Homo sapiens: one gene and its partners. Each later gene encodes a partner of the first gene's protein in a complex. Each region holds a gene or a part of one and is shown in the gene's direction. Other genes may lie near its edges.

Evidence for each region. The genes of interacting proteins can lie anywhere in the genome.
Region 2: the proteins of MCM2 (region 1) and DNAJC9 are in contact, whole or in part, in a crystal structure (PDB 7CJ0), measured with the Homo sapiens proteins. Residues at the interface, in NP_004517.2 of Homo sapiens: Glu65, Glu66, Glu67, Asp68, Glu104; in NP_056005.1 of Homo sapiens: Lys185 (codon at 5,366), Arg189 (codon at 5,378), Arg192 (codon at 5,387), Lys244.
Region 3: the proteins of MCM2 (region 1) and SUPT16H are in contact, whole or in part, in a crystal structure (PDB 8YJF), measured with the Homo sapiens proteins. Residues at the interface, in NP_004517.2 of Homo sapiens: Ile73, Gly74, Asp75, Met77, Tyr81; in NP_009123.1 of Homo sapiens: Gln898, Ser899, Leu900, Asn901, Lys904.

Annotation. Positions count from the first base shown.
Region 1 is NC_000003.12:127,614,982-127,622,769, forward strand, and holds the end of MCM2 (DNA replication licensing factor MCM2), read left to right. Parts: intron 1-880; coding exon 881-974; intron 975-1,886; coding exon 1,887-2,137; intron 2,138-2,297; coding exon 2,298-2,424; intron 2,425-2,987; coding exon 2,988-3,100; intron 3,101-4,045; coding exon 4,046-4,297; intron 4,298-5,716; coding exon 5,717-5,899; intron 5,900-6,091; coding exon 6,092-6,247; intron 6,248-6,681; coding exon 6,682-6,792; 3' UTR 6,793-7,455; downstream 7,456-7,788. UniProt on the Homo sapiens protein: Acts as a component of the MCM2-7 complex (MCM complex) which is the replicative helicase essential for 'once per cell cycle' DNA replication initiation and elongation in eukaryotic cells.
Region 2 is NC_000010.11:73,244,256-73,251,310, reverse strand, and holds the start of DNAJC9 (dnaJ homolog subfamily C member 9), read left to right. Parts: upstream 1-4,055; 5' UTR 4,056-4,121; coding exon 4,122-4,301; intron 4,302-4,482; coding exon 4,483-4,623; intron 4,624-5,134; coding exon 5,135-5,389; intron 5,390-6,806; exon of another isoform or gene 6,807-7,055. Other genes in the region: MRPS16 (small ribosomal subunit protein bS16m), read left to right, coding at 320-459.
Region 3 is NC_000014.9:21,381,020-21,387,942, reverse strand, and holds the start of SUPT16H (FACT complex subunit SPT16), read left to right. Parts: upstream 1-3,923; 5' UTR 3,924-4,015; coding exon 4,016-4,081; intron 4,082-6,923. Other genes in the region: CHD8 (chromodomain-helicase-DNA-binding protein 8), read left to right, coding at 1,767-2,330. UniProt on the Homo sapiens protein: Component of the FACT complex, a general chromatin factor that acts to reorganize nucleosomes. The FACT complex is involved in multiple processes that require DNA as a template such as mRNA elongation, DNA replication and DNA repair.

The DNA of each region.
Region 1 (7,788 bases):
AGGAGTTAGAGACACCTCTAAAGCTGCATGAATTTGATGGTGCAGGCAGGACATACAGGATGCAGCCTGATGGGGGTGTCTCCCCTCCACCTTCAGGGCTGGTTTTCCTGCCTTAGTCCCCTCTCCCCAGGCGAGGGCCAGTGCTTTCTGAGCTTCTTTGTCTGTCCTACAAGGAGGGAAGGATGTGGGTGTGGCCAGTGCAGGGGGGTATGAAGGCTGAAAGCTATCAAAACATGGCTCTGCTGCAGGTGGAGTTGGAAGCAGTCTCCTACAAGCAAGAAATGTCTTTGATGTCTCTAATTCTATCTAAAATTCATGAAGATTTTGCTCTCTCCCTGTCTCTTTCTTTCTCTCACACACACACTGAAATAGAAATGTTCCAGTGACTCACTAGTTGGAATTACTTCCTGGTGGACACATCTCCCAGATGTGCCACATTTATTGCATTGACGAGGCAGGCACTTGCATGAACTGTCGCATTTGTACCCACCCTTCTGTGAGTTGGATGTTGCCATCTCTCTTTTCCATATGAAGAAACTGAGGCTTGAGGTAGGCCAGTGCCATGACAGACCTGGTTCTGGTCTTATTTCTGCTCTTGGTCTGTGATCTTGGGAAAGGCCTTTCTGAAATATGTCAAGATTAGGGGTTCAGATGAAGGTTCTTCTAAACTCCAAAGTTCTGTGACTCTTGGGAAGAGCCAACTAATGAAAAGCTTTAGAGTCGGGCACGGCTTGATACCAGGGCCTGATGCAGTTGCAGCAGCTGTGGAAGTGGGTGTCTTTGAGCTGGGGATGTCGTGGTTCCCTGATGCCAGAGCATGTGGGTGACCTACTCTGTGAGTATCTGTTCCCATTCTTGTCGGTCTCCCTCCCTTTCTCAGATCTTTGCCAGCATTGCTCCTTCCATCTATGGTCATGAAGACATCAAGAGAGGCCTGGCTCTGGCCCTGTTCGGAGGGGAGCCCAAAAACCCAGGTGAGCACCCACCTTTCCTCTGCAGGGGTGTTAGCAGCTTTCTCTTTGGGGAGCCAGCATTCAAAGAAGGACACAGTGTTTTTAAAGCCTGGGTGCTGGGGAGAAAGAATGCATTAAAAGATGGTCTGGCTGGGCGTGACTCATTCTTCAAGGGAGAGGGTGGCCCTGAGTTGGGCATTCTGGGTGTTGGGCTGTTGGTCAGGGAGCCAGTGTCTGCCTGCTTTTGTGATTTAAGCAAATGAGTCTTTGCTTCTCTTCTATGTAAAAAATACTTTGTCTTTTAAAAACCTGTTTTAAGTACAAAAATACTATTGACACATGAGTTTGTATTTATATTACACTTTTATAGAACACTAAAAGTCATGGGTGAGGCTGATTTCCCCATTGACCCCCACTTCTCTTCCTAGTCCCTCCCTTTGTGGCCATTTACAATTACACAGCAACCACAGGGTTTCATGACTACACGTGTTTATTTGTACAAGCGCAGCGTCCCCTGTGTGTGCCCAGTGCTGTGCCTGTGCGCAGTGCATCCCACCGAGCTCTCCCGCTCAGTGCCACACTGCAGCATCTTTTCTTGTTAGTGCATACAGAGCAATTGCCTTCTTTTAAATGACTATCATGCCACCAGATAACGCAGTTTATTTAGCTCTCCCTTTGGAGAACACTTAGATTGTTTCTGATATTTCACATTCGCCAAGGACATCTCGTGCAACCCTCCTCTGCACCCGTGTGTGTTTCCCTGGGAGTGCCCAGAGTGGGACTGCATGGCGTAGGGCATTGTATCCCTTTCTAGAGGGACTGTGCCTTACCATTCCTAACAAGTAGGTTGAGGAATTGGTGGGGGATGCAACTGTGCCCTCCTCCTCTCACTTCCCACTCTCCCCCTCCCCCGCTTCTACTCATCCCCTCCAGGTGGCAAGCACAAGGTACGTGGTGATATCAACGTGCTCTTGTGCGGAGACCCTGGCACAGCGAAGTCGCAGTTTCTCAAGTATATTGAGAAAGTGTCCAGCCGAGCCATCTTCACCACTGGCCAGGGGGCGTCGGCTGTGGGCCTCACGGCGTATGTCCAGCGGCACCCTGTCAGCAGGGAGTGGACCTTGGAGGCTGGGGCCCTGGTTCTGGCTGACCGAGGAGTGTGTCTCATTGATGAATTTGACAAGGTGGGTCCCTGGGTCACGGAGGCTGGTGGAACTCAGGGGGTGTGTGTGGGCTTGGGCCTTAGCGACGGGAATGGTGTTAATGGGGTCCATTGGGACCTCATCGGAGACTTAGTAGTAGGGGCGTGAACCATGCTAAGGGTGGGCCATTTTAATCTTGCAGATGAATGACCAGGACAGAACCAGCATCCATGAGGCCATGGAGCAACAGAGCATCTCCATCTCGAAGGCTGGCATCGTCACCTCCCTGCAGGCTCGCTGCACGGTCATTGCTGCCGCCAACCCCATAGGTGCAGCAGGCACCCTGACTGCTGGGGCTGGGGTGGGACACAGGGAGGTCCCGCCTGCTTGAATTGGGAGCCCACGGGGTCCCCAGGAGCCGATCTGAGGAAGTCATTGTGCAGCAGAGGGTTCCCCTCTTCTGCATATCCTGCCAGAGTGGGGAACAGTGAAAGTGGGACCTGGGACACCTGGGTTTCCTGTTGAGTCATGTTCCTGGAATCACCTTGGATGTTCTCAGAAGGCATGGGAGGAGAGCCCAGTGCCCCTCTGGCCAGGATGGAGTTGGCTGTTGGTCTCAGCAGCGAATGCGTAAAAGAACCCAGGCTCTGTCACCCACTGTGTTCTTGGTTTTTCCTCCTGGGGAAGCAGTTATGCTTTCTGTCTAAATTAGGCTATTTTGGGCCCTGGTTAGGGTAAGCTCTTTGCTGTCTCAGACAGCAGGTGCTAAGTACCCACCTATGTCTTCCTCTTCCACTGCCCTCATCCCCTTCTGCCATCAGAGCAGCCTGGGGTCCCTGAGATGGGAGGATAGGGGAATCCACCCTGATGGAGGTGCTCCCCTGTGTTTCAGGAGGGCGCTACGACCCCTCGCTGACTTTCTCTGAGAACGTGGACCTCACAGAGCCCATCATCTCACGCTTTGACATCCTGTGTGTGGTGAGGGACACCGTGGACCCAGTCCAGGTATAGCTCACATGTGCCCGGTTTCCATGAACTGTGGTTTGGGGACCTCAGGTGAGGCTTGGGGTCATACAGTGTGCCCAACACAGGGGACAGGTGCTGCAGGGGCCATAGGCTGTTTTCTAGTCCTGTTCCCTCGGTCTCTTCTCATGTCCAGAAGTCGCCCTGATTTCTCTTTCCTTCACAGCACCCCCGACCCCCACCCTACATAACCCACAATCCACCAAATCCTGTTGTCCCAACTCCTGAGCCTACCCACCTCCCTCACTTCTGCCTCTGACTTGAGGCACTACCATCATCTGAACTGGCCTCCTGGCACCCATGTAGACTGTCTTCCAGTTGAAGGCATAAATCAGATCAGCCCCGTCCTTAACAACTGCTTGAGGCTTTCTGCTGTCATCAGAATAGAATCCAGGGTCCTCCCCTCCGGCCCGCACCCGCCATCTCTGCAGCTACCTCCTCCTCGCTCCCTTCCCTCACCTGCACCTGCACCTGCCCTTCTCTCTCAAAAGGGCCGAGCCTTGGGGCTTGATTGTGCTCCTTGCTCCTGGCAGACGCTCTCCCACACTGTCACATGACTTGCATCTCATTGTCGTCATCTCAGCTCCCTGTCTTTCAGGGAGGGGCTTTGCCGGGCACCCTTAGCTAGAGGCATCTCCTTGGTCCCTTGATCCTATCACTCTATTTTTCTTCTGAGCATTACTTTCCATAATTAATTTTTAAGACTATTTGTCTCCTGTCCCCTTGTGGAGATGAGCCCTGTGGGGACTCTGTCCCATTGTCTGGTTTGCCACCCACACCCAGAACTGCCTGGCACATGGTCAGTGTAGTCAGTCTTGTTGAAAGAGTGTCACCCTTGTAGGGCACACTCAGCCCTTCTCCAGCCACTGACCTCCCCAAAGCCACGCACACCCACAATCAGACCCACCCTCTCATGGCTTATCTTAGGACGAGATGCTGGCCCGCTTCGTGGTGGGCAGCCACGTCAGACACCACCCCAGCAACAAGGAGGAGGAGGGGCTGGCCAATGGCAGCGCTGCTGAGCCCGCCATGCCCAACACGTATGGCGTGGAGCCCCTGCCCCAGGAGGTCCTGAAGAAGTACATCATCTACGCCAAGGAGAGGGTCCACCCGAAGCTCAACCAGATGGACCAGGACAAGGTGGCCAAGATGTACAGTGACCTGAGGAAAGAATCTATGGTGAGAGCCCAGGCAGAGCCGGGAGGTGCTATGCAGAGAAGGAAGTGCAGTGTGAGCCTTCTGACCAATGCAGCGGGGGTGGTGGTCAGTCAGGCCAAAAGGTGCCAGAGCAGGGAGGCATTAAAAAAAAAATGTAGGTGCCAGGCACAGTGGCTCACGCCTGTAATCCCAGTACTTTGGGAGGCCGAGGCAGGAGGATCACGATGTCAGGAGTTTGAGACCAGCCTGACCAACATGGTGAAACCCAAAAATTAGCCGGGTGTGGTGGCACATGCCTGTAATCCCAGCTTCTCAGGAGGCTGAGGCAGGAGAATCGCTTGAACCCGGGAGGCGGAGGGTGCAGTGAGCTGAGATCGCACCACTGCACTCCAGCCTGGGTGACAGAGTGAGACTCCATCTCAAAAACAAAAACAAAAAATGAAAGTTGGGTACAGTGATTCATGCCTGTAATCCCAGCACTTTGGGAGGCCAAGGCAGGAAGATTGCTTGAGGTGAGTTCAAGACCAGGCTGGGCAACATAGTGAGGCCCTTTCTCTACAAAAAATGTTTTGAAACTTAGCTGGGCCTGGTGGTTTGTGCCTGTAGTCCCAGCTACTCAGGAAGCTAAGGAAGGAAGATCTACTTGAGCCCAGGAGTTCGAGGCTACAGTGAGCTATGATGGCACCACTGCACTCTAGCCTTGGTGACACAGTGAAACCCTGTTTCAAAAAAAAAATATTTTTTTAAATGATAGGTATTAATATATACCTTAACCATTTTGTTTTAGATGAAATTTAAATGTGCATTCATTTGTCTCAGTGTAGGGCCAAGGCCTTAATTGTTGATGTGCTTATTAAGTTCCATATTGACTTTGTGTAAATTTCACTCTAATGAACACAAGGTCTTTGGCTCATTCATAGTGGAATGGAAACTTAAAGCAGCTTGCAAGCCATGGGAATGCCGAGTCCTTGTAGATTGCTGCCTCAGCCACACCCAGTCAACACAGCAGCTTTTCAAATTTCTGCCTTTTAACTTTACCAAGTTTTTTCAGATCATTCAATTTAGTTTTCCTACAAACAACGACCTTTTTTTGCACTTACATTGTACAGGATTATTCAATATTTAGTGTGTGACAATAACCAATACAGCTGGCCACAAATACAACAGCCTCTGAGATGCACAGAAGTCAGCTGGTGGGAGCAGAACTGTGCAGGTGTGATGGTGACAGGCCGTAAGCATGCAGCATCCACTGGCATCCTCTGATTTCCAGGAGGGATAGGAAGTGTGCATTCACTGGGCAGCGCAGTCAAGCATTCTGCATTTCTGCTGGGGCACTGTCAGATGGGTCTTCTTGGCTCTGGGTGCTAAGAGTGCCGCTGCTTTATTTTCCTTGCTTCTCTTTCCTGCCCGTGAAAGACCTGACACTGTGCTTCTCTCCAGGCGACAGGCAGCATCCCCATTACGGTGCGGCACATCGAGTCCATGATCCGCATGGCGGAGGCCCACGCGCGCATCCATCTGCGGGACTATGTGATCGAAGACGACGTCAACATGGCCATCCGCGTGATGCTGGAGAGCTTCATAGACACACAGAAGTTCAGCGTCATGCGCAGCATGCGCAAGGTGGGTGTGCTCCGAGGTAGGGGCCTGATGGGCAAGCTCAGTGAAGGAGGCCACACGTGGGTATCCAGGGCTCTGGCCTGGACGTGCACCCAGGAGCGGCAGCCTGTCTGACCTGGGTGCTGGCACGTAGGGTAAAGGGAGTGTGGCAGGCGTAGTGGGAGCGGGTGTTTGACTGAGGCTTTTTTCCTGCAGACTTTTGCCCGCTACCTTTCATTCCGGCGTGACAACAATGAGCTGTTGCTCTTCATACTGAAGCAGTTAGTGGCAGAGCAGGTGACATATCAGCGCAACCGCTTTGGGGCCCAGCAGGACACTATTGAGGTCCCTGAGAAGGACTTGGTGGATAAGGTATGGGCCCGGAAGGGAGGTGAGGGTTGGGGTATGCTGACTTGGGAGCTGCCAGTCTCCTGATGGGGGCTCCATCATAATGGGTCATGAAGTGGGTGGGCCTTGGTTGACAGCCATTTATTGAATGCTTACAGTCTGTTGAGTCCAGTTCTGTGCCTGTAGTCTGACAGCAGGGGAGTGAGGTGAGTCCTGTTACTGCCTTCCTGTTGTGCAGAGGTGGAGACAGATACAGGGCAGCCAAGTAACTTGTCTCAGTTTACACGCACAGCTTGTACAGCAGAGATTTGAAGCCCCTTAATCGGCCTCTCCACCCCTGGATATTTTCCTCCCATAAATGGAGGTGATGGTGTCTGAAAGTGCACTGTAACTGGGGCGCTCTGGAAACAGCCTGTTCTCACACCACTGATGGCTCACTGGACACTTCCTCCTTGCAGGCTCGTCAGATCAACATCCACAACCTCTCTGCATTTTATGACAGTGAGCTCTTCAGGATGAACAAGTTCAGCCACGACCTGAAAAGGAAAATGATCCTGCAGCAGTTCTGAGGCCCTATGCCATCCATAAGGATTCCTTGGGATTCTGGTTTGGGGTGGTCAGTGCCCTCTGTGCTTTATGGACACAAAACCAGAGCACTTGATGAACTCGGGGTACTAGGGTCAGGGCTTATAGCAGGATGTCTGGCTGCACCTGGCATGACTGTTTGTTTCTCCAAGCCTGCTTTGTGCTTCTCACCTTTGGGTGGGATGCCTTGCCAGTGTGTCTTACTTGGTTGCTGAACATCTTGCCACCTCCGAGTGCTTTGTCTCCACTCAGTACCTTGGATCAGAGCTGCTGAGTTCAGGATGCCTGCGTGTGGTTTAGGTGTTAGCCTTCTTACATGGATGTCAGGAGAGCTGCTGCCCTCTTGGCGTGAGTTGCGTATTCAGGCTGCTTTTGCTGCCTTTGGCCAGAGAGCTGGTTGAAGATGTTTGTAATCGTTTTCAGTCTCCTGCAGGTTTCTGTGCCCCTGTGGTGGAAGAGGGCACGACAGTGCCAGCGCAGCGTTCTGGGCTCCTCAGTCGCAGGGGTGGGATGTGAGTCATGCGGATTATCCACTCGCCACAGTTATCAGCTGCCATTGCTCCCTGTCTGTTTCCCCACTCTCTTATTTGTGCATTCGGTTTGGTTTCTGTAGTTTTAATTTTTAATAAAGTTGAATAAAATATAAACGCTGGTATCTGTTGGCTTCCATTCCGCTTTAGTAAGTAACCTGGACTTCCGCTGAAGGCCCTTTCCACCTTCTCCGTTCAGAGTTCTGTAGGAGGTAGGTCGGGTTAAAAAAGCTGTTTTGTTTGTGGATGTAGAGAAAGCAAAAATGATATAGATATCCCCATTGAACTTGGTTTGCAGTCACTGCCTCTGTGATATCTAAGTGGAATCCATGGAAATCCTAGTTAGACGTGTATAGGACTAGAGGTGGTGTAGCCTACCCCACAGTGGGGCAGTACCATCCACCACCTCACCCAGAGATGAGGTGCCGGAGGGACCTCATCAGCCTCAGC
Region 2 (7,055 bases), on another chromosome or scaffold:
TTTTGAATCTGGAGGCCCCTTTTGTGGACTCCTTTGTAAGACTTTGGGTGACTGGTATTTTATGCTAAAAATAGGAATAGTATGTTTTGAATGGCCATCTGTCAGTTTACGTTTTTTAAAGTAAGGGGAATATTGTTAGGGAAGTAGACATCCACTGTCTCCTTGCCGGGGAGAAGTAGTACAGAGTTTGGCAAGTGAGGAGCATGGTTTGCATCCATGCACTGGGTCAGATCTCAGACCTCAGTTCTGTGAGACAGAGTTCCTAGGGAAGCATTGGCTTATACTGTGTTATAATAAGTGAAAAATCTGTTACTTTTAGGTCTTGCTGGCTTTTTCCCTCTGCATCCTATGATGATCACAAATGCTGAGAGACTGCGAAGGAAACGGGCACGTGAAGTCCTGTTAGCTTCTCAGAAAACAGATGCAGAAGCTACAGATACAGAGGCTACAGAAACATAAATGAGCTGACTTTAGTGAGCATAGCAGTGGGAACAAGGTCAAGGTCCTTTTGAAACACTGCAGCGATCTTAATTTTGTTAGATTTGGAGTTCAATAAATGGAGTATCCTGAGTTGCCCTTGCTCTTCTGGCCTGGCCTGCACAGGGCCCAGGGAGAGATTTGTTCTTGTGTGACTTAGAGCTGGGTGTGGGTACTAATTAGCTTTTTTCGACTTTGTCTTGGGATAGACAGTGGCTATGGGAGGATTGGACTTTTGAGTTGGGCTCTGGGTCTCTTGGACAACTTTACAATTTACTGGCTTCCAAGACTTCCTGCTTCAAAACCCCCAGCCAGACTATTCATGGCCCATTCAGATCTTCATGTTCATCCCACAAGTGCAAGAACAGTTAACCTTTCTTAATTGATTTTTGTAATTGGAGGTTTATATTGTCTTGCCTAATGCATATTCTCTTTTTTTTTTTTTTTTTGAGACGGAGTCTTGTTCTGTTGCCAGGCTGGAGTGCGGTGGTGCAATCTCAGCTCACTGCAATCTCCACCTCCTGGGTTCAAGAGGTTCTCCTGCCTCAGCCTCCTGAGTAGCCGGGGAGCTACAAGCATGCACCACCACACCCAGCTAATTTTTTTTTTTTTTTTGAGAGGAGTCTCGCTCTGTCGCCCAGGCTTGAGTGCAGTGGCGCGATCTCGGCTCACTGCAAGCTCTGTCTCCTGGGTTCATGCCATTCTCCTGCTTCAGCCTCCCGAGTAGTCCCAGGAGTAGCTGGGACTACAGGTGCCCACCACCACACCCAGCTAATTTTTTTGTATTTTTAGTAGAGATGGGGTTTCACCATGTTATCCAGGATGGTTTTGATCTCCTGACCTCGTGATCCGCCCGCCTTGGCCTCCCAAAAGTGCTGGGATTATAGGCGTGAGCCACCGCCCGGGCAAATTTTTGTATTTTTAGTAGAGATGGGGTTTCACCGTGTTGGCCAGGATGGTCTCAATCTGACCTTGTGATCTGCCCACCTCGGCCTCCCAAAGTGCTAGGATTACTGGCGTGAGCCACCACTCCTAGCCTTAATGCATATTCTTAAATATACAAAGGTAGATTTGTTATGAAAATTGCTTTGGGGCTCTAATAACCTACCTTTTAAGAATGAGAAACTGCTGGGCTTAAGGGAGTTCAGTATGAATCAAGATTGAACCATTCAAATGTGGCTGTGATTTCTGCATATATCATAGATGGGATCCTTCTGAGAATACTGGAATAGGGAATTAGGACACCAAGCCAATTCAGCTGTGAACCTTATTCTTGTACTTTTCTTTCTTGCTGGTAATTTTATGGAGCAGGTTAAGAAGGCTGCTCTGTGTTAGGATAAACTGTATACCAATAATGTTGACAACCTGTAATGAGTGTTGCATTTTACTTCTTGTATCTTTTCCTTCCTACCTTGATGCCAGTAATCTATAAGGGATCTTTATAGTTTGAATGTATTTGAATAACTTCAGTATACTTTAGTTCTACTTTTTTATTTGACTCACAACCATTCTTAGGTCTCAAGTATTCCCATGTGTTTTAAAAGCCTGAAGTCAGTGAGATGAAATTCAACATCAAGAATTTGAAGTAACTTGTAAGGAAAAATAATATAAAGATACCATTGGGGCAGTGGCTCACACCTGTAATCTCAGCACTTTGGGAGGCTGAGGTGGAAGGATCACTTGAAGCCAGAGTTTGAGACCAGCCTGTGCAACACAGCAAGACCCCGTCTCTACAAAAACTTAAAAAATTAGCTGGCTGTGGTGTTGCTCACCCATAGTTCCAGCTACTCGGGAAGCTGAGGCAGTAAGATCACTTGAGCCCAGGAGGCCGATGCTGCAGTGAACTGTGATTGTTCCACTACAGTCCAGCCTGGGTGACAGAGAAAAGAAAAAGAAAACATTACATAATTTGGCTAGAGCATAATAATTTGATTTTCTGGTTTTTGAAAATTTGAGTTGCAATAAAAGGATATTTCAGTGTGCGATTTCAATTTTCCGTAGCAAATGTATATATAGAAAAATGTTAAAATAGATGTATTTGAATACCTTAAAAAATACAAGAAACTGGAAGAAAGATAATATTGCAAAGCATCTACATATATCCTAGGCCTTTTGTGTACAAGGTTATTTGTGACAATTGTAAGGTATTATGAAGGCAGGTAGGATTATCTCCGTTTTACAGATAGGGAAGCTGAGGCCTAGAGGTGGAAACTTGCCCAGTGATGTAAGATTCATCTCCCGGTTATGCCCTCCTGGAAAGCCCTTCCCAACATATTATGTTGTCCATAGAGGGAAAAATGAGCAAAGACAGATGGCTTAACTCTGGTGTGTGACTAAGATATAGGAAATTTATAGAGGAGGTTCTATCAATGTGCCGACTTACTTTGTGTTTTATGTTCTGAGAACGATTACCAGCCATCTCAAATTCTGTGGTTGTCAAAGCTCCCCTGGGGTTGTTGCTGGTTGGCCCCCACTTGCTTTGAGACTTTGATGCCAGGGCAGGTTGAGAGGAACTGACTTCAGCTGAGTTTGATCTTGGATCTGGGAAAGAGAAATGCTTTGAAAATCACGGCAACTCTGGGAAGTTTAAAAGATATTAATGTATCCTGGAGAGTTTGAGGCTTTGCAGAAACTTATTGGCAGAGCAGAATGATTCTGAAAAATGCTACATCAGTGAGGGGATATTTGATAAGGTATTTTCTGCCAACTCGGGTATTCACTTAGCATTGTTTATCCTTTAAGATATGTATACACATACTTCCTCTGTGAGTTTACCCTACTAACAAAGTTTTATCCCCAGCCTCAACCTTGCTTTGGGTCTCCAGGCCCAAGTTTCTCACCATCTCTTGGATGATTGCTCCAGCCCACTCTGCTGCCACCTGGGATCCAACATGTTCAAACCCAGCTGTGAACTTCACAGAGTATTAAAAGAAAGAGCCTTTGCTTCAGCAGTTTATGTTATTAAGACGGAGGCTTGGGTCATGTTATCTCTCTCCACCAATGTGTAAGGTGAAAGTCCTATTAGGTAAGAGTTTTTGGAAGACCCGTGTTTTGTGCTTTTTGGGTTTCAGTATAGGGTTTTTTCCTACAGGGCTAGAGGGAAAGTACCCCAGCATTTCCAACCAGTGGGGTGCAAAATTATTTGGGTCTACAGCTTTACCTATTCCTTTCAAGAACATTTTTGAAAAAACACATCTGTTAAGTTGAACCATGTGTAACTGCTGAATGCTGATGTTTGGCCGTTTTCTACTTAAAAAAATAGGCCAGCAGTTTGTAAATTCAAGCTAATATATGAACTTTTTGAAAAAGTTGTTCTTGGACACTAAAAGGTAAGACGGACGCCAGATTTCCAGAGCAAGGGGAGGAGAGACCCGAGCAACATCACTTCCCTGAAGACCTAGCTCCTGCGCGCGGCCGGGGACTGTGACTCCACATGCCGGCGTTACTTACCCGGGCCCGCGCCTGACTCGCCACACCTCATTTTGCGGCCGCCGTAAAGCGCGGATGCGCGGCGTGGCCACGCCCCTTCAGTGCTTGTGACGCAGGCGCCCTGGGCTTTTTGGGCGCGAAAAAGAAGCAGTCCTGGGTTGTACCCGGCGCAGCTGGGAGCGGCTGCTTCCTCCGGGGTCGTATCTCCGCCCGGCATGGGGCTGCTGGACCTTTGCGAGGAAGTGTTCGGCACCGCCGACCTTTACCGGGTGCTGGGCGTGCGACGCGAGGCCTCCGACGGCGAGGTCCGACGAGGCTACCACAAGGTGTCCCTGCAGGTACACCCGGACCGGGTGGGTGAGGGCGACAAGGAGGACGCCACCCGCCGCTTCCAGGTATGCAGGGTCCCGCCCCGAAGCCGACCGGCTGCGCGGGCCTCCCCCTAGCCTTTTGGCTACCGGGCCCCGCCCCGGGGGAGCGCGCTGAGCTCCGCTTGGCGCCTTCTGATCTTTATTTCTCGCGCCGCCGTTTCGGTGGGAGGAGCAGGGGTGATTTACGGATACTCTTTGCCCTCAGATCCTGGGAAAAGTCTATTCCGTTCTCAGTGACAGAGAACAGAGAGCAGTGTACGATGAGCAGGGAACAGTGGACGAGGACTCTCCTGTGCTCACCCAAGACCGAGACTGGGAGGCGTATTGGCGGCTACTCTTTAAAAAGGTAAAGGACTCTGGAGGTTTCTTTGTGACTGTTACCATCATTCAATCAACAAACCTTTATTGACTGCCTCTAAGATCTTGTATTTTGTGTTAATTTTGTAGGAATTAGGAATTTTGAGTTTGGCCTTGAAATACAGATACACGCACGCTTACTGAAACGGGCTTTAAATTTCCTGTTAATGTGATTGTTGCACTGAAAAGGGCCGATTTATTTTTTTTGCCGGATGCGCTTTATTTTACATATCCAAATGTAAGTCCTGATTCCGGATCACCTCTCACTCTTGGAAATTTCACTTAAATTTCCCTTCCCTGGTCCCTAGTTAGCAGTTAATGAAGATTGGATTTAAAAAGGAGGACTCCGGAGAAGCTTAGGCATAGAAAATCTGGTTCAATAATTTCAACTCAAGCAACTGTTGTATTGCAGCAATTCAACACCCAACTCTAGTTTTACTAACGTACGTTTTATTTAAAGTAAAATTCCCAAAGTTAAAGCAAATCTCCTTTATCATCAGATATCTTTAGAGGACATTCAAGCTTTTGAAAAGACATACAAAGGTTCGGAAGAAGAGCTGGCTGATATTAAGCAGGCCTATCTGGACTTCAAGGGTGACATGGATCAGATCATGGAGTCTGTGCTTTGCGTGCAGTACACAGAGGAACCCAGGATAAGGAATATCATTCAGCAAGCTATTGACGCCGGAGAGGTCCCATCCTATAATGCCTTTGTCAAAGAATCGAAACAAAAGATGAATGCAAGGAAAAGGAGGGTAAGATTTTGAATACTGTGGATTTATATTTTGACTGCTTCCAAAAAGGATTTGAGAGTATTTACAGCAGTAGAAGTAAACATAAAACTCCAGAAATAAGGACTAGGGTTAACTTGGTCTATAGTTTCGATCTAATAAAATGGGCATACCAGTTCATCAAGAGAAACTTTTTCTAGCATGTTGTGCTCAAGATGATTTTTATTGCATAGATTGTTTAAATATTACCATAGTAAAGTAGCACTGAAATATTTTTTCATGTAGGCCAATTCTTGTAGCATTCCTGAGGCATTCCTCAGGAGATAAAGTTAGTGGAACCCGGGTACACAGGATGGGCAGTGATCCTTACTCGGTTGAGGGGGTAAGAAGAGAATGGCAGACACCGTCTTGTTAAAAGTGCAGATGTTTGGGCCTTTGCCCCGAATTTGATTCTTGAGTTGGATACAGAATTTTTCTTTTCTTTTTTTTTTTTTTAAAGAAAAACTTTAGCTTAGCGGTCCCCAGCCTTTTTGATACCAGGTACCTGTTTTGTGGAAGACAGTTTTTCCAGTGACAGTGGGGGTGAGGAGAGTTGGGGGGGTGGTTCAGGATGAAACCTTAGATCATCGGGCGTTAGATTCTCTTAAGGAGCACACAACTTTTAGGACCACTGCTGCCTTCCTGAGTGCCCTCAGGAACTTTTCTGCAGCTTTTACATAAGAGACGCTGGCAGAGAGAAAGCTGACCTTTTTGTTTCCGGTGAAAATTTGAAGGGCCTGTTTTGCCTAGATAAGAGGCTGCACCCTTTCTGGTGAGCTTGAGGGGAACGGTGGAGTGTATATCAAGACCATTTTGGTTCATAGGCTACATCTGCTAAGACTCAAGCTGACAATTATCTTAAGTCGTTCATCATTTCCTGAGATGAAACTGAGCACAGCTGCATTCACAGTAGACTGTTAGCTTGAGAAACTTCCCTAGAATTTGAGGAGAAAATGGCATAGTTTTGATAGACTGTTCAACAAACCTTAGGGGGATGCTGAATTTAAAGAGAGAATTTGAATACAAGGAAACGGTGTCTTATTGGGATAGGGGGTCCTAATGTATCATCATCCTCAGTATTAATAGCATTAATTGCTACTTAGAAAATTCACAAGGGGTGTTGGGGCCTCTTATAGTTGTTGCCCTAAGGTGTTCTTGTGATATTTTGTAAACAATGCTCTAGGAACACTTGGCAAAGGAAGGCTGCTTTGAAATTAGGTAAATAGATGTTAAAACTGAGTTTATTGATGTTGGTTCTTCTGACTACTGGGGAGAAGTCATTTTAAACTGGGGTTGTTCACAAGGCACCACCAGTCCCATGGAGTAAATTGGGTTTCCAGGAGAGAAATTGGAAATACCTGTATCCTGGCAATTGCATCATTTGCCTTTTTTTTTTTTTTTTCTCTTTTTTCTAAGAGATGGCATCTCCATCACCCAGGCTGGAGTGCAGAGGCATGATCACAGCTTATTGCAGCCTGAACTCTCAGACTGAAGCCATCTTCCCACCTCAGCCTCCCTAGTAGCTGGGACTACAAGCACATGCCACCACACCAGGCTCATTTCTTTTCTTTTTTATAGAACTGAGGTCTCACTATGTTACCCAGGCAGGTCTTGAACTCCTGAGTTCAAGTGATCCTCCCACCTTGGCCTC
Region 3 (6,923 bases), on another chromosome or scaffold:
CTGTTACCTATTTTTACCTCAAGTACTTCTGCTACTCCCTTATAGTCAACTGAAACTCTTAAGAAATATCATAGAAAATCACAGAAAATCCTAATATGACTAGTACAGAATTCTTTTTTTTTTTTTTTTTTTTGCTTGAGACAGAGTCTCGTTCTGTAACCCAGGCTGGAGTGCAGTGGCATGATCTCAGCTCACTGCAACCTCCGCCTCCTGGGTTCAAGTGATTCTCCTGCCTCAGCCTCCTGAGTAACTGGGATTGCAGCCATGCACGACCACACCCAGCTTTTTTTTTTTTTTTTTTTTTGATACAGAGTTTCACTCTTGTTGTCCAGGCTGGATGGAGTACAATGCCGTGATCTCTGCTCACCGCGATCTCCGCCTCCTGGGTTCAAGCGATTTTTCTGCCTCAGCCTCCCCAGTAGCTGGGATTACAGGCATGCGGCACCACGCCCAGCTAATTTGTTGTACTTTTAGTAGAGATGGGGTTTCTCCATGTTGGTCAGGCTGGTCTCGAACTCCCAACCTCAGGTGATCCGCCTGCCCTCAGCCTCCCAAAGTGCTGGGATTACAGGCGTGAGCCACCACGCCTGGCTGACTCCCGGCTAATTTTGGTATTTTTAGTAGGGACAGAGTTTCGCTATGTTGGCCAGGGTGGTCTTGAACTCCTAACCTCAAGTGATCCACCTGCCTCAGCCTCCCAAAGTGCTGGGATTACAGGCATGAGCCACCACGCCTGGCCCAGAATTCTTAATATAGAATTGACAGTGAATCTAGCACTACGTTATTCTTGGGACCTGCAGGAATAACTTCTATCTTCAATGAACTTAATCAGAATTTTTAGTCAGAACATCTAGAAGAAGCCATTTAAAATTCAGATATGTAAGTTTTTTATCAATGTGGAACAAAAATTATTTTATTAAATTTAGTGAGGAGTTTCTGACAGTTTTTTGGTGTTCTAGACATGTAGAAATCTTTATCTGATCTGTCTTGAATTTACCCTGCTTTGATGTGCTAATAGAGGATATTATTGTAAATGTCAATTCACATAGTAAGAACAAGTGAACAACTTGCCATCAGGAGACACGAGTGATTTTTTTTTTTTTTTTGAGACGGAGTCTCGCTGTCGCTCAGGCTGGAGTGCAGTGGCGCGATCTCGGCTCACTGCAAGCTCTGCCTCCCGGGTTCACACCATTCTCCTGCCTCAGCCTCCCGAGTAGCTGTGGGACTACAGGCGCCCGCCACCTTGCCCAGCTAATTTTTTGCATTTTTAGTAGAGACCGGGTTTCACCGTGTTAGCCAGGATGGTCTCGATCTCCTGACCTTGTGATTCCCCCGCCTCGGCCTCCCAAAGTGCTGGGATTACAGGCGTGAGCCACCGCGCCCGGTCACAAGTGATTTTTTTTATGTGCATTTACTAATTCATTGTCTTACCCAGACCCCTTCTTAACAAAGGTAAGCATTTGTGAAATGGTTGACTAAAGTAAAGATACAATATAGTCATGGGGAAAAGAAGCAAAAACTGGTTAATATGAGTTTCGGTACAAAATCATTGATCTTAACTTTAGTATCAGAATGTTTCAACCAGCTAAGTCCAGCATTTCCTCCTTCCCATTACCACCAATCAAGCCTAGTATCGCTGTGCTTGTTTTGCCTCTTCTAAGGTACATTCAGTAAAAAAGCATTGTAAGCTAGGACTCTGTTGGCTTTGGTTTCTTTTCTTTTTTCCCCTTTCTTTCTTTTTATTATCTTCTATTCCCTCCTCCTAGGGTCATCACACTGAAACGGTGTTCAACCGGGTTTTGCCAGGGCCTATTGCACCAGAGAGCAGCAAGAAGCGGGCCCGTAGGATGCGACCAGACCTTTCTAAGATGATGGCCCTCATGCAGGGTGGAAGCACTGGGTCTCTATCTCTGCATAACACGTTCCAACACAGCAGTAGTGGCCTACAGTCTGTGTCATCTTTGGGTCACAGCAGTGCCACTTCTGCATCTTTGCCTTTTATGCCATTTGTGATGGGTGGTGCACCATCATCCCCTCATGTAGACTCCAGCACCATGCTTCATCACCACCACCACCACCCCCACCCCCACCATCACCACCATCACCATCCAGGCTTGAGAGCCCCTGGCTACCCCTCTTCACCAGTGACTACCGCCTCTGGTACTACCTTGCGGTTGCCACCACTGCAACCTGAGGAGGATGACGATGAGGATGAAGAAGATGATGATGACTTATCTCAGGGCTATGATAGCTCAGAAAGGGACTTCTCACTCATTGATGATCCTATGATGCCAGCTAACTCAGACTCCAGTGAAGATGCTGATGACTGAAGCCCCAGCATGGGCCCCATTGCTTGGGCGGCTGCTGTATTTTCATTTACTCTGGCCCTTGGACTATGGAAACGTGGGAGGGGCAGGGGAGATGTGGGGAAGTCCAGGACTCCAGGAGGTGAAAAGGAAAAAAAAAAAAAAATGTACCTGATTGCTCCCAATTATGAGAGGATTGGGTGGGCAGGGGAACTCCTAAAATAATACATGACCACTTCCTCATTTCTGGGGAAGGAAAGGAGACTAGAGCAGCTGGTGTGCTCACCCCTCCCTAGTCACCTCCATTAACCACAGACTATGTAGCGCTGGCCCTAGCCTCTGGCAGAGCCTGTTCCTGGCCGAACTGTGGATACAGCTGGAGGGTCAGGAACTGTTACCTTCTTTCCCCTTGGCATTAATAAATTTAAGTTAATCCTTTTCCACTCTTCCTTTGTTCTATGTTTGCTCAAACCCAGTGTATTGATTTTGAGTTGTTAATGGTGGGTAATTTCAGCACCACTTTCCTTAAGTTCAATACTGTTTATACTAAATTGCCTTACAGCAGACAAGTCATCTGTACTCCTCTAAAGGGTATATACAAATGTAGACTGTCCAGCTGGCTAAAGGCAAGGGAATTATTTAAGGTAAATGGTAGGTAGGCAAACTTCTGGATTCAAACTCCAAGTTTTTAGAAGAGACAGGGAGCAAGAATGTCATCAGGAACCATTTATGTTTTGTTTCTAATTAACTGAAGTAACGGTTATTTGGGGGAAGCCATAGAATAGTGCCAGTTTTCATGAACTGCAGCAAGGGGACTGGCCGACTGGAAGGATGCTGCCGCGACTTGGGCTCAGGGGGTGGGGTTGTGGGAAGGAACTAAAAGTTTGTAGAGCCCCTCAAGTCATCTGTTTCCTCTGACTTACACCATCCCACTGCTCAGTTAAAGCTTGCGCATATTATTTTCCTTTCGAAAACTAGGTTCCTCCCCCAGCTTGGGTCGTAGTTTATCACGAGGCTGGGCTCCATTTCCCTGGTATGAGTCCTCTGTCCCGGCGGAGCGCTTGACCCAGCATCCTGGCACCGAGGATCCCTCGAGTCCTGGAGCAGTCAAGGGCTTTTGCATTCCCATCATTTCTAGGAGGGGCGCATGCCCAGTTACACTGTAGTAGTCCCACTTTTATCCCACGCTAGATCCCGCTCTTTCCGCTCCCCCTTCCTTTGCAGATGGGGTGGAGCTATAACACCCGCGCGCGGCAGCTCTTGTGGGCGGGGCAGGCGCCGCCTCCTTCGCTTCGTCTAGGGACTGCCGCCTCGGCAAAAAGTCTGAGGTCCTGGAAACCGCCGCTGGGCTGAGAGTTAATAAGGGCGGAGGCAGACCGTCACGTGACGACGTCGATTCGCGTGCGGCAGTGGCGAAGTTGACAAACCCCGCGAAAATCGACTCTTTGCATCGCACATTTTGTTGATTTTCCCTCGTTTTTCTTTCTCTCTTTCCCCCGTCCATCCGAAAGAGGGTTGGAAAAAAACAAAACAAACAAACAAACAAAAAAAAAACCTAACGCTGTTGGGACCCGGAAGCGGAAAGGGCATCTTTGAGGTCGATACTTCCGGGTCATTGGGAGAGTGCGGGATTCCTGGGCCGAGAGCGGGTGGCTGAGCCGGGACCTCGCGTGATTCTCGGAACCCGAGGAGAAGCGGCGTCCGGGGCTATGGCTGTGACTCTGGACAAAGACGCTTATTATCGGCGAGTGAAGAGACTGTACAGCAATTGGCGGGTGAGGAAGATCCTGTAATTTTTCCTAGGGAGCCCCCTTAGCCATCCCATAATAACCCTGTTTCTCGGCGCCCTTTTTTCTCTTTCGGTCAGGAATTCCCGGGTTCTGTGCCTCACCCTTTTCGTTGCTCCCGAATCATTCACCGGAGGCGGCCACGAACGCTGCCCCTTAACAGGGAATCCCCCGCATTCACCCTGTCCTGCGGCCATCACCATCTTCCCCGCGTGCCAGCCTTGGTCATGCATAGCAGCACCTCTCGCAGTCTCTTCCCGCCCTAGAAGAGGCAACATCCTTCCCTCCTACTCCGTGGTCACGTCTTGCTGCCCTCCCCTGCCGTGTTCTCACGCACTCGCTCTGTCCCTCCAGAACCACAATATTCCACCCCTGGTCCCGCCAGGATTATAACCGTCTTCGTAAAGGAGAGATGGAAGGGCAAGGAGGATGTCAATCGGGCTTTTAGCGTTTATCGTTTGCGGGGCTTTTGCTGGAGTTAAAAAAAGAAATACTGCTCACGCGCAACCGCCTCATGTTCTAGGCCCTGCTGTGGGTTACAGAGAGGGACCTAACGCTGAAAGCCTGCAGGCATTAGTAATAACAAAACAAAACAAAACGATGCCTAAAACCTTATTAGTTCCTTGGTAGCGTATCCGGGGCACGTGTTCATTAAAAGAGCTGTGGCAGTTCCCAGTTTTTTAAAGATTCGGCAGTTTTGCTGCTCTAAAAACGTCCACAGTTAAAACTTATTTTTATGATGTTAACTTACTAATTGAGCAAACATTTGGTTGCATTCTGTGATGCAGTCTGAGTTGGCTAGCTTAAGTCTTGCCCCTGAACCCTGTCATCAAGGGAAGATACAGCTAATAAAGATTTTTTTTTAACCTGAAAAACGTTTTGAGAAAAATGATCAGCTCTCATTTCAGCATTGTAAATTATCTTTCAAACTGGTCATCTACTAAAACCAAGCCATTAAAATTGGTCGTTTCCTTGCCATTCATATTAAAGCTGTCTGTGCATGTTTCATCTTTTGGGGCTAAATACATTAGATAATTGAAAATAAAATTGATTCTCTTGCATTTTATGAAAAGGAAAAATAAGAACTAAATGCTAGATGAATACTGAACATTTTATTTTTTTTAATTTTTTGATTAATTTCTACCAAATGATTTTTTGCAGCTTCTCTCAGTGTCATATTATTCAAACATAATCGATGTTAGAAAAACATTTTAAAACCTTGATACTTTCTAATGATCAGTAAGTACTAAAAATCCGAAGCCCTCTCTTGTACCCATAAACCCTGAAACTGTGAACCTTTGGTATGAAAATTGTTTCTAGTCCCAGTGATTCAGATTCATCAAATAATTTCATTCTCTCTATACCATTCATGAAAACTAATCTATAGCTCTCACTTCCTCTACATGACAAATTAACTGTGGCCTGAAGACAGGTTGGCAAACCTAATAAAACTGATAGTCTTTAAATCCATGAAAGTTATTTCCCACCCACCATTTTTTTTTGTATCTCAAAAATCTTTAAAGTTTATCTTGGCCCTCTTACTACCTTAATGACATCATCTTGGGAGAATGTTAGATATTGATAAGACACTGATGGTGTAAAGTTATGAGCCAAATCTATGTAAAAATGTACCAGTTAACAAAACCTGTGGCTATTATGAAAAACTTACTTGAATAAGACTTTCTGCTTTTGTGTTAATGTGTCCAGAACCCACCTGTAGAAGTTCTTTGTGTATGCAGTCTTTTCACCCTACAGTGCTTTCATTCTGATACACTTAATCAGAGATAGTAGTTTTCTGGGTTAAATCTAGTCGCTTATCCTCCTGGATATAGCAGAAAGATAGTGGGATATATAGGTGTGTTGTATAACTTTTCTCTTTTACACCTTTTCCTTTTTTTAATAAGAAAACTGGGATTGAAATAGAATAAGTTGAAGTTAATGGTAAAAATTCCAAACCTGGCTGGGCACCGTGACTCATGCCTGTACCCAGCACATGAGGCCAGGAGTTAAAGACCAGCCTGGGCAAGATGATGAGACCCCCGTCTCTACAAAAAAAAAAAAAAGGCAAATAAATTAACCAGGCATGGTGGTGTGTGCCTATAGTCCTAGCTACTTGTGATGCTGAGGCAGAAGGATCCCTTGAGCCCAGGAGTTTGAGGCTGCAGTGAGCTGTAATCGCATCACTGCACTCCAGCCTGGATGAGACCCCGTCTTTAAAAAATAAATTAAAAAAAAAAAAAATAAATCCCAAGCCTTTTGCTTTCAGCTTCCATCTTAAAAAAAAAAACTGTTATGACTAAAATTAACTAAAAAATGATTTGGGCTCCAAACCCACTTTTAATTTTAAATACTCTTGATTATAAGCCCTTAAAAGCTGTAGTGGTTGAACCTGGTAGTTCCAGCAGTCCAAATACAAGTACACAGGGTTGTAGAGAACTGATAGGCTACTAAGCTTTTTCTTCCCTTTTTTAAAAATAAGAATAGGAATTAACCTTACCTATCTGCAAGTTAATTTTCAGTTAGGTACATATTTTGAGGCTATTGCAAATAAAATATTTTTTAATTATAATTTTCATAACTTATGTCCTAAAAACAATTGTAGTTACCATGTACTTTTAACTGAATAGAAATTTCAAAAATATTAAGCCCTGTATCTAAGTAAATCGTGTCATTTTAGAGATGGGAAAATGGAGTCAGTCAAAAATCAACAGGAGACCTTAGAACGTACTATTGTTTTATGACTCCTGGAGGTTTGAGTCTAGATCCAGTCTTGCCTCTTATGTTTTAAGTGAGAGCTGCTAAGAGCAGAAAGGATTTGCAGCACCTTCTC